Linked DNA regions of Homo sapiens: region 1 is linked to region 2. Evidence: fine-mapped expression QTL. A gene starts in region 2. The other region holds a variant in brackets. All regions are shown on one strand. Distances are between the middles of the regions. Region 1 overlaps GJB1 (gap junction protein beta 1). Region 2 holds the start of IL2RG (interleukin 2 receptor subunit gamma).

The links. PIP is the estimated chance that this variant, and not a neighbour inherited with it, causes the effect.
Region 1: its variant is fine-mapped to the expression of IL2RG in coronary artery (GTEx, PIP above 0.99).

What each region holds. Positions count from the first base shown.
Region 1 is chrX:71,224,196-71,229,499 of GRCh38, reverse strand. GJB1 (gap junction protein beta 1) reads right to left here. Exons shown (of 2, transcript NM_000166.6): 2 at 3,984-5,304. The coding sequence ends at 4,941. Among named protein-coding and RNA genes, the nearest start is that of GJB1, 3.6 kb to the right of the region's middle. The variant AGATTGT/T (reference allele first, on the strand shown) is at 3,244.
Region 2 is chrX:71,109,324-71,114,668 of GRCh38, reverse strand. It overlaps IL2RG (interleukin 2 receptor subunit gamma), which reads left to right and starts at 3,092. Exons shown (of 8, transcript NM_000206.3): 1 at 3,092-3,244; 2 at 3,619-3,772; 3 at 3,981-4,165; 4 at 4,374-4,513; 5 at 5,279-5,345. The coding sequence starts at 3,130. RefSeq lists enhancers at 2,940-3,329, 2,432-3,631.

The DNA of each region.
Region 1 (5,304 bases), 110 kb before region 2:
ATCTGTCTCAGTCTTCAATCCCCAATCCAGTCTCCATGCAGCTGCTGGCTGACCTTCCAAACACACAAGTTTGAAGGTATCACCCCCGTCATACCTTTTTTTTTTTTTTGAGACAGAGTCGCTCTGTCACCCAGGCTGGAGTGCAGTGGCATGATCTCGGCTCATTGCAACCTCTGCCTCCCAGGTTCAAGCGATTCTTATGCCTCAGCCTCCCAAGTAGCTGAGATTACAGGCGTGCGCCACCACACGGGGCTAATTTTTGTATTTTTGGTAGAGACGGGGTTTCACCATGTTGGCCAGGCTGGTCTCAAACTCCTGACCTCAAGTGATCCACCTGCCTCGGCCTCCCAAAGTGCTGGGATTACAGGCGTGAGCCACCGTGCCTGGCTTTTTTTTTTTTTTTTTTTTTTTTTTGTGATGGAGTCTCACTCACTCTGTCACTCAGGCTGGAGTGCAGTGGCGCGATCTCGGCTCACTGCAACCTCCACCTCCCGGATTCAAGCAATTCTCCCACCTCAGCCTCCTGAGTAGCTGGGACTATGGGCATGTGCCACCACGCCTGGCTAATTTTTGTATTTTTAGTAGAGACAGTGTTTCACCATGTTGGCCAGGATGGTCTCGAACTCCTGGCTTCAAGTGATCTGCCTGCTTTGGCTTCCCAAATTGCTGGGATTACAGGCAACAGCCACTGTGCCCAGCCAATTCCTGTCATATCTGTAGGGTATTTTTTGTCTGTTTTATTTGCCCCTTGCTGGAATGTCCCAATCCATTTTCCATTTGACCCTGTACATTCTCCCTGGCCTACTCCAGGAATCAACAGGAGCTTAGCTTGGTACGATTGTGTAGCCCCTTCTGCACCATAGGCCAGGTCTGGCATTTAAGTACTTTGGAATCAGTAAATGGAGCAAGCATTCCCCTCTAGCCCCCACTGTGTGCACCCAGGCTATCTGATTGAACATCTGAACCAGTTTGTGGTTGCCATGCCAATTCTCTATGGATACCACAGCTTGCTTTCAAACCCCAACTCAGCTGGCTGGAGGCCTTGATTACTCTCCTAGTTCATCTGCCTCTGTTCCTTTGCCCCCCAGCTCCTGGCATCTCTGTGCATAGACACCTCTAAAAGATCATAGACATTCCTAAAAGGACCAGTTCCATGAGATACAGCATGCAAGAGCTTCCTGTTACTATGCCTTTTCTGCCCCCTGATCAGACCCCTTGAATATTGACCCTTAAATGAATCATGCTCAGGTTTGCAACCTCTCTTGGACTTTGCTGTTTGGACTGGTGTCCACTCCCTGGGGGAGCCAACACTATTATTGCCAAATTGTTTTAACTAGCTTCAGCCTACCTGAACCAGCCTCACTCCTTTCTGGCTCATTGAGAATTCTAGCATGTCGTAAGGCCATGGTCTCAGTGCTTATGATACTATCTTACCTTACTTTACCGTTAGTTCATAACCAGCTTTTGAACACATCTTGTCTGATTCTCAAAAAAGTTCTGTGAAAGAGGTAGAGAGGTTATTATTAACTCTCTATTGGAGATGAGGAAACAGACCTGGAGAGGGTAAATATCACGTGTCCAAGGGGACAGAGCTCATCAGTGGAGAACGAGGTCTCCTAATTCCAGTGTCCTCTTCATAACCCAGGTCACTCAGCACATTGAATTTCTACTGCGTGGCAGAGAGCATGCCTCATTTGCCTCTGTGTCTCTCTCTTATACTCTTGTGACAGAGCCTGATTTGAAAAGTCAGTCTTGGAGTCAGTCTAACTCTGCCTCCTACCTCCCTGAGACATTGTGTCCACCAGCTCCCCTCAAGGTTCCTTGGGCCTGTTCCTACCTGGTTCATGGGACCCAAGAATCCTGTGTCCCCCACTTGGGCTGTAACACCCAGCCTGATAGCTTTATTGTCCCACCACTGCCCCCTGGAGAGGAAAGCCTTGATATAGAGTTGGAGCCTCTTTCCAAGGGGGATTGGTAGAATCTTTGAAGAGAAACTACATTTCTGATGTGATGGTGGGGGTTAGCATTTCTCAATGTGGAGAGGGCATGAGGTTCCCTGCTTCCGACCAGGACCAGGATGGAATTTTAAAAAGAAAATCTTTCTCCTGATGGCATGTTGTATGGAGAGGGGATGTGTTTGTTGTATTGTTGTGGGTGAAAAGGATGGATTTCGATAAGAAAAGGAATCTCTCTCACCGTGAGGGGGTGGGGACCTCTCCTCTGATGGAACATAATGTCAGTTTCTAAGGGGAAAGGAAATTTCTTGTAGGAAAGGAATGTTCCTCTTTTAAGGGAGAGGAAGCTCTCTCTCAGGGATTACTAAGTGTGGTGGAAAGGAATACTTACTCTCTCCTTTCTTTCTTTCAATTTTTTAAAAATAGAGATGGGAGGCCGGGCGCGGTTGCTCACACCTGTAATCCCAGCTCTTTGGGAGGCCGAGGCGGGCAGATCACGAGGTCAGGAGATTGAGACCATCCTGGCTAACACAGTGAAACCCCGTCTCTACTAAAAATACAAAAAAAAATTAGCCGGGCGTGGTGGCGGGCGCCTATTGTCCCAGCTACTCGGGAGGCTGAGGCAGGAGAACAGCGTGAACCCGGGAGGTGGAGCTTGCAGTGAGCCGAGATCGCGCCACTGTACTCCAGCCTGGGTGACAGAGCGAGACTCCGTCTCAAAAAAAAAAAAAATAGAGATAGGATCTTGCTATGCTGTCCAGGCTAGTCTTGAACTCCTGGCCTCATGCAATCCTCTTGCTTCGGCCTCTAAAGGTCTCATTTCCTTCCCTCCCTCCCTCCCTCTCTCCCTCCCTCCCTTCCTTCCTTCCTTCCTTTTCTTTCTTTGTTTCTTTCTTGACAAGGTCTCACTCTCTGGCCCGGGCTGGAGTGCAGTGGCGTGATCACAGCTGACTGCAGCCTCAACCTCCTCCTGGGCTCGAGTTATCCTCCCACCTCAGCATCCGAAATAGCTTGGGACTACAGGCACATGCCACCACACCTGACTAATTGTTTTATTTTATTTTTTTTGTAGAGATGGGGTCTCTCTATGTTGCTCAGACTGGTCTCAAACTCATGGGCTCAAGTGATTCTCTCCCCTTGGCCTTCCAAAGTGCTGGGACTACAGGCATGAGCCACCACATCCAGTCTTCCTTTTTTTTTTTTCTAAAGGAGAAATCTCAAATAAAGAAAACTTCCATGCTTTCTCTCCAAAGAGGAAAAACTGTCTCAAGGGAGAACAATTCACATG[AGATTGT/T]GTCTGATTTTCTCTCCCTTTCTGATATCCAGCACTTCCTACATGGAGTCCACATACTCTGAGAGGGAGTGGCAAATAATTTCTCCTGTTCGGAGGTAAGGAAGCTGAGGAGGCAAACTTGCCATGGGGGAAACTTTTACTCTGAGAGGCTATTTGTGGGGGCAGTGACTCTAAGGAAACCCCTGTGAGGCTGGGGGAAGATAATGCACTGTTACTTGGGGAAATCTTTCAGGAATCCCAGAAGCACAGAGTGTTGAAGGGAGCTGAGAGATGTGCTGGGCCAGTTCTCGTTTGCTCATAAGGAAGCTGAGGTTCGGGGAAGGGAATGCCCCGCTACTAAGTGACAGCATCAGGACTCCAGCGCAGCTTTTCCAAGTCTCAGCCTGGGGCATTTCCTACCACAGCTGACAGGGGAGGGTGATGCTGGTGAGGAAACTGCTGCTATGAAATGTTTGACCTGTGTGGAGGCATCTCTGGAGTGGGAAGCATTGATTCCTGAGAGAAGGAAACTGGGAAAGAGGATGAAATTAGGGGCTCTGTCCAGCTGAAAGGGGTCAGGGTCATCGTGCAACCCAACAGGTGGACTGTGGGACATCAGCTTGTAGGGGATGCTGAGTTTGGAGGGAGTAAGGAGATAGGTCTCCAGATGTGCGGGGGAGGGGCTCTCACCGAGGTACCCAGGGAATTGTGCCACTCTCTGGGGCAGGAGAAATTTCCCAATCATTTCTTGTCTCTTCAGAGGGAGTTGTCATTTTTAATCTTTTCAAAATCAGAGGAAGGAGGTATGTAAACTAAATCCCAATAAAGCTGTTATTAGACAATGAAAAAGACAAGAACCACAACAACAAAAGCAACAGGGAGGAATGGCTCCGGGGCTGGCTCTGCGGCCCAGAAGTACAGTGATTTCCTCATTTGCAGCTTCAGCTACTCAAGTAACTACTTCTTTTGCCCTGTTCCTTTCTTAATCAGTAAAAAACCAAGGCCAGCTCATCCTGGGGGAGGTCAGAGGTTGCAGGAGAAAGAACTTGACAAACACACAAGCCACCTCTTCATTTACTGTAAAATCCTGTTTAATGTGTAACATTTCAGGCAGAGAGAGGCCTTGGGGACTAGAGGCAGAGGTGGCCTTGACCAACCCCTGCTCCAACTTATCTGCCTGCTTCTCTCTCCCTAACTCCCTCACCCCAGACACCTCCTCCTTTTCCTTGTGGCCAGCAAGCACTATTCCTCCTTTACTAGTGCTGGCCACCCTCCCTTCTCCACCCACATGTCCACAGCACCCCTGCCCTCTGCTCCTCTTACCCACATCCCTCCTCACTGATGTGACTCCAGAAACAGGGTATCTGACAGCACAGGGTTAAGATTAGTTTCATAATTGGAGACGCTGTCGGAGCATCCCATCTCTTGTACCCAGTGGTCCCAGAGAGAGGGAGAGGGAAGAGGGAAGGGTGCAGGCAACAAGGGCAGCCCACACTCCCAGTAACCTTGAGCACTGGCATAGGTGGCCTCTAGCTCCCCACCCCTCCAGCTCCTCAAAAGGAAGGCCCCGGGAGGAAGGGAAGTAGCCAGGGAAGGAAGGTTTTGATCGAGTAATCCCCAGCAGGCAGAGGCCTGTGCACCGGCAGGGGAGAAGGAGGGGCTCGCCCAGGGCAGGGTCGGGGGTGGGATGGGAGGTTGCCTGGTATGTGGCATCAGCAGGCCGAGCAGCGGTCGCTCTTTTCAGCCAGCCCAGCCCCGGTGCCAGGGCTGCGGCGCAGTATGTCTTTCAGGGAGCCATCCTGCTCACTCAGCAGCTTGTTGATCTCATTCTGCTTGTATTCAGGTGAGAGGCGGTGGCCGAAGCCCGAGCCCTTGCGGGAAGGTGGATTGGAGCGGCGCTGGGCTCGGCGGGCACAGGCCCGGATGATGAGGTACACCACCTCGGCCACATTGAGGATGATGCAGATGCCAGAGGCAGCTAGCATGAAGACGGTGAAGACGGTTTTCTCGGTGGGGCGGGACACGAAGCAGTCCACTGTGTTGGGGCAGGGGTAGACGTCGCACTTGACCAGCCGC
Region 2 (5,345 bases):
TTGCTCCACATCCTTGCCAGCATTTGGTGTAGTCCGTGTTCCGGATTTGGGCAATTTTTTTTTTTTTTTTTGAGACAGGGTCTCACTCTGTCACCCAGACTGGAGTGCAGTGGTGCAATCTCAGCTCACTGCAACCTCCGCCTCCCAGGCTCAAGCAGTTCTCCTGCCTTAGCCTCTCAAGTAGCTGGGATTACAGGAATGCGCCACTATTGCCTGGCTAATTTTTGTATTTTTTAGTAGAGACGGGGTTTCACCATGTAGGCCAGGCTGGTCTTGAACTCCTGACCTCAAATGATCCACTCACCTTGGCCTTCCAAAGTGCTGGGATTACAGGCATGAGCCACCATGCCCGGCCTCTTTTTTTTTTTTTTTTTTTTTTAAACAAGAGATGGGATCTTGCTGTGTTGCCCAGGCTGGTCTCCAACTCCTGGGCTCAAGCAACCCACTCGCCTCAGCCTCCCAAAGTGCTGGGATTTCAGGCAAGGTGTGAGCCACCTTGCCCAGCCCATTTTGGCTATTCTAATAGGCATGTAGCCCTGAAGGATTTATTTATTTTATTTATTTTATTTTTTAGGCAGAGTCTTGCTCTGTCACTCTGGCTGGAGTGCAGTGTGCGATCTCAGTTCACTGCAACCTCTGCCTCCTGGGTTCAAGTGATTCTTGTGCCTCAGCCACCTGAGTAGCTGGGACTACAGGTGAGTGCTACCAAACGTGGCTAATTTTTGTATTTTTGTAGAGATGGGGTTTTGCCTTCTGAAGGATTTTAGCCTACAGAAAGTTAGGAAGAGGCTAATTCCAGAGAAAGGAAATGCGTATGACATATCCAGTGTGGCTGGAATTGATCATTGGAGCTTGGGCTTTATTCTGAAGGCCATGAGTAGCTTTTGAAGACTTTTAAATTGGAGAATGCCCTCTGTAGTGGGTTGAATGTGGCCTCCAAAAAGATATGTTCACTTGGAACCTGTGGATGTCACCTTCTTTGACAAAAGGCTTTTAGCAGCTGTAATTAAGGCAAAGCTCCTAGGAGAGAACACCCTGGATTAGGGTGGGCCATAAATCCAATGACAGGTGTCCCTGTAAGAGAAGAGAAGGATAAAGGAGATGCAGAGAAGAAGAAGAGGTAATGCAAAGATGGAGGCAGAGATTGGAATGATGTGTCTACAAGCCAAGGAGCACCAAGGATCGACGGCAGCCACCAGAAGCTAGAAGAGAGGCATGGAACAACTTCTTCCTCAGCGCCTCCAGAAGGGACCAACCCTGGCCACACTGATTTCGGACTTCTGGGCTCCAGAACTGTGAGAAAATAAATGCCTTTTTTTCCTTTTTAAAAAATTTTTATTTATTTATTTATTTATTTATTTGAGATGGAGTCTCACTCTGTTGCACAGGCTAGAGTGCAGTGGCGCAATTTTGGCTCACTGCAACCTCTGCCTCCTAGATTCAAGCGATTCTCATGTTTCAGCCTCCCGAGTAGCTGGGATTACAGGTGTTGCCACCATGTCTGGCTAATTTTTGTATTTTTAGTAGAGACGGGGTTTCACCAGGTTGGCCAGGCTGGTCTCGAACTCCTCAAGCAATCCACCTGCCTTGGCCTCCCAAAGTGCTGGGATTGCAGGCGTGAGTCACTGCACCCAGCCGAGAGAATAAATTTCTGTTGGTTTAAGCCACTCAGTTTGGGGATAACTTATGGCAGCCCTAGCAAACTAATACATACTAAAGATACATACTAAATACTAAGCTGGGCCATATAGTCCAGTTTTCCTGAGACTCCCAGGCAAGTGCTGTTTTTCTTTGCTTAATATCCTACACCACTTTCTGTCTGGTAAAATTACACTCATTCTTTAAGATGCCACTGAAATAGCACCTCTTCAGCACAGCCTTCACTAAACTATCCCCCTCTCCATCTTGGTAAATTTAGTTACTTCCTCTTCTGTGCTCACATACTTTGTAGTATCTCTACATTTATGCTATAGGACTTGTTACACTATGTTGTATTACTTGTTTATGTCTTCCCCACTTTTCTGTGAGTGTCTAGAAATATGAGGATGTCTTGTTGGTCTATTTCCAGAACATAAGCACAGTGCCTGGCACATATTAAAAACGTAATAAATGTTTGCTGAATAAATAGTTTCTGTAAGTGGCTTCTCCAATCACCTCTGTGTTTTCGGGGAAGGTAAAACTGGCAACAGGATGAAGAATGGATTAGAGAGCAGAGGGCCTTTAGAAAGGGAGGCCAGTTGATGGAGTCTAGATAGAATCATGACTAGAGCTAATGAAAGACTGATTTAGCAGAGTGGCTGTGGTAATGGAAAGGAGGAAACCGTTGGGAGAAACACCACAGAAGCAGAGTGGGTTATATTCTCTGGGTGAGAGAGGGGGAGAAATTGAAGCTGATTCTGAGGTTTCAAGTCTGGGTGACTGAGAGGGTGACGATACCATTGACTGAGGTGGGGAAGGCAGGAAGAGAAGCAGAGTTGGGGGAAGATGGGAAGCTTGAAGCTAGTATTGTTGTTCCTCCATTTCTAGAATATTTTTGTATTATAAGTCACACTTCCTCGCCAGTCTCAACAGGGACCCAGCTCAGGCAGCAGCTAAGGGTGGGTATTCTGGTTTGGATTAGATCAGAGGAAAGACAGCTGTATATGTGCCCACAGGAGCCAAGACGGTATTTTCCATCCTCCCAAAACAGTAGAGCTTTGACAGAGATTTAAGGGTGACCAAGTCAAGGAAGAGGCATGGCATAGAACGGTGATGTCGGGGGTGGGGGTTCAGAACTTCCATTATAGAAGGTAATGATTTAGAGGAGAAGGTGGTTGAGAATGGTGCTAGTGGTAGTGAACAGATCCTTCCCAGGATCTAGGTGGGCTGAGGATTTTTGAGTCTGTGACACTATTGTATATCCAGCTTTAGTTTCTGTTTACCACCTTACAGCAGCACCTAATCTCCTAGAGGACTTAGCCCGTGTCACACAGCACATATTTGCCACACCCTCTGTAAAGCCCTGGTTTATAAGGTTCTTTCCACCGGAAGCTATGACAGAGGAAACGTGTGGGTGGGGAGGGGTAGTGGGTGAGGGACCCAGGTTCCTGACACAGACAGACTACACCCAGGGAATGAAGAGCAAGCGCCATGTTGAAGCCATCATTACCATTCACATCCCTCTTATTCCTGCAGCTGCCCCTGCTGGGAGTGGGGCTGAACACGACAATTCTGACGCCCAATGGGAATGAAGACACCACAGCTGGTGGGAAATCTGGGACTGGAGGGGGCTGGTGAGAAGGGTGGCTGTGGGAAGGGGCCGTACAGAGATCTGGTGCCTGCCACTGGCCATTACAATCATGTGGGCAGAATTGAAAAGTGGAGTGGGAAGGGCAAGGGGGAGGGTTCCCTGCCTCACGCTACTTCTTCTTTCTTTCTTGTTTGTTTGTTTCTTTCTTTCTTTTGAGGCAGGGTCTCACTATGTTGCCTAGGCTGGTCTCAAACTCCTGGCCTCTAGTGATCCTCCTGCCTCAGCCTTTCAAAGCACCAGGATTACAGACATGAGCCACCGTGCTTGGCCTCCTCCTTCTGACCATCATTTCTCTTTCCCTCCCTGCCTTCATTTTCTCCCCAATCTAGATTTCTTCCTGACCACTATGCCCACTGACTCCCTCAGTGTTTCCACTCTGCCCCTCCCAGAGGTTCAGTGTTTTGTGTTCAATGTCGAGTACATGAATTGCACTTGGAACAGCAGCTCTGAGCCCCAGCCTACCAACCTCACTCTGCATTATTGGTATGAGAAGGGACGAGGGGGAGGGGATGAAGAAGAGGTGGGTTGGATCAGAGACCAAGAGAGAGGGTAGCAAGTCTCCCAGGTACCCCACTGTTTTCTCCTGGGGTAAGTCATAAGTCGGTTGAGGGGAGATGAGGCTAGGCTCTGGATATCTGCAGTACCCAGATTGGCCCCACTGTTCCTCTTCCTTCCAACCTTTCTCCTCTAGGTACAAGAACTCGGATAATGATAAAGTCCAGAAGTGCAGCCACTATCTATTCTCTGAAGAAATCACTTCTGGCTGTCAGTTGCAAAAAAAGGAGATCCACCTCTACCAAACATTTGTTGTTCAGCTCCAGGACCCACGGGAACCCAGGAGACAGGCCACACAGATGCTAAAACTGCAGAATCTGGGTAATTTGGAAAGAAAGGGTCAAGAGACCAGGGATACTGTGGGACATTGGAGTCTACAGAGTAGTGTTCTTTTATCATAAGGGTACATGGGCAGAAAAGAGGAGGTAGGGGATCATGATGGGAAGGGAGGAGGTATTAGGGGCACTACCTTCAGGATCCTGACTTGTCTAGGCCAGGGGAATGACCACATATGCACACATATCTCCAGTGATCCCCTGGGCTCCAGAGAACCTAACACTTCACAAACTGAGTGAATCCCAGCTAGAACTGAACTGGAACAACAGATTCTTGAACCACTGTTTGGAGCACTTGGTGCAGTACCGGACTGACTGGGACCACAGCTGGACTGTGAGTGACTAGGGACGTGAATGTAGCAGCTAAGGCCAAGAAAGTAGGGCTAAAGGATTCAACCAGACAGATAGAAGGACCTAATATCAAGCTCCTGTTCTCTGCCTCCCAGCTTCTCTGCTCACCCCCTACCCTCCCTCCTCCAACTCCTTTCCCCCCTATTTTCTCCAGTGAGTTTTCTTTTTTTCTTTTCTTTTCTTTCTTTCTTTCTTTTTTTTTTTTTTTTGAGACAGAGCCTCACTCTGTTGCCCAGGCTTGAGTGCAGTGGGGCGATCTTGGGCTCACTGCGACCTCTGTCTCCCTGGTTCAAGTGATTCTCCTGCTTCAGCCTCCCAAGTAGCTGGGAGCATGCACAACCATGCCTGGCTAATTTTTGTATTTTTAGTAAAGACAGGGTTTTGCCATGTTGGTCAGGCTGGTCTTGAACTCCTGACCTCAGGTGATCTGCCCACCTCGGCCTCCCAAAGTGCTGGGATTACAGGCGTGAGCCACCATTCCTGACACCAGTGAGTTTTCATTAGGGATTCCCTACCCATACTCTTCCTGATACCAGATAGACAAGTAAACAAAAGGAAGCCATTAAGGGGATCCAGAGGGGAGGCATTAGATTCAAGTCAGTGAAGGGAGCAGTGTGGCTTGAGTAGTCAAGAGATGAGAGAGAAACTGGGCAGTAGCAGAGATGACACTGGTGGGTGTTCAGGAGTATGTTTTAATTCTCCCTTCTCTCATAGACACCCACTTTCCCTCATCCTCTTTCTCCTCAAGGAACAATCAGTGGATTATAGACATAAGTTCTCCTTGCCTAGTGTGGATGGGCAGAAACGCTACACGT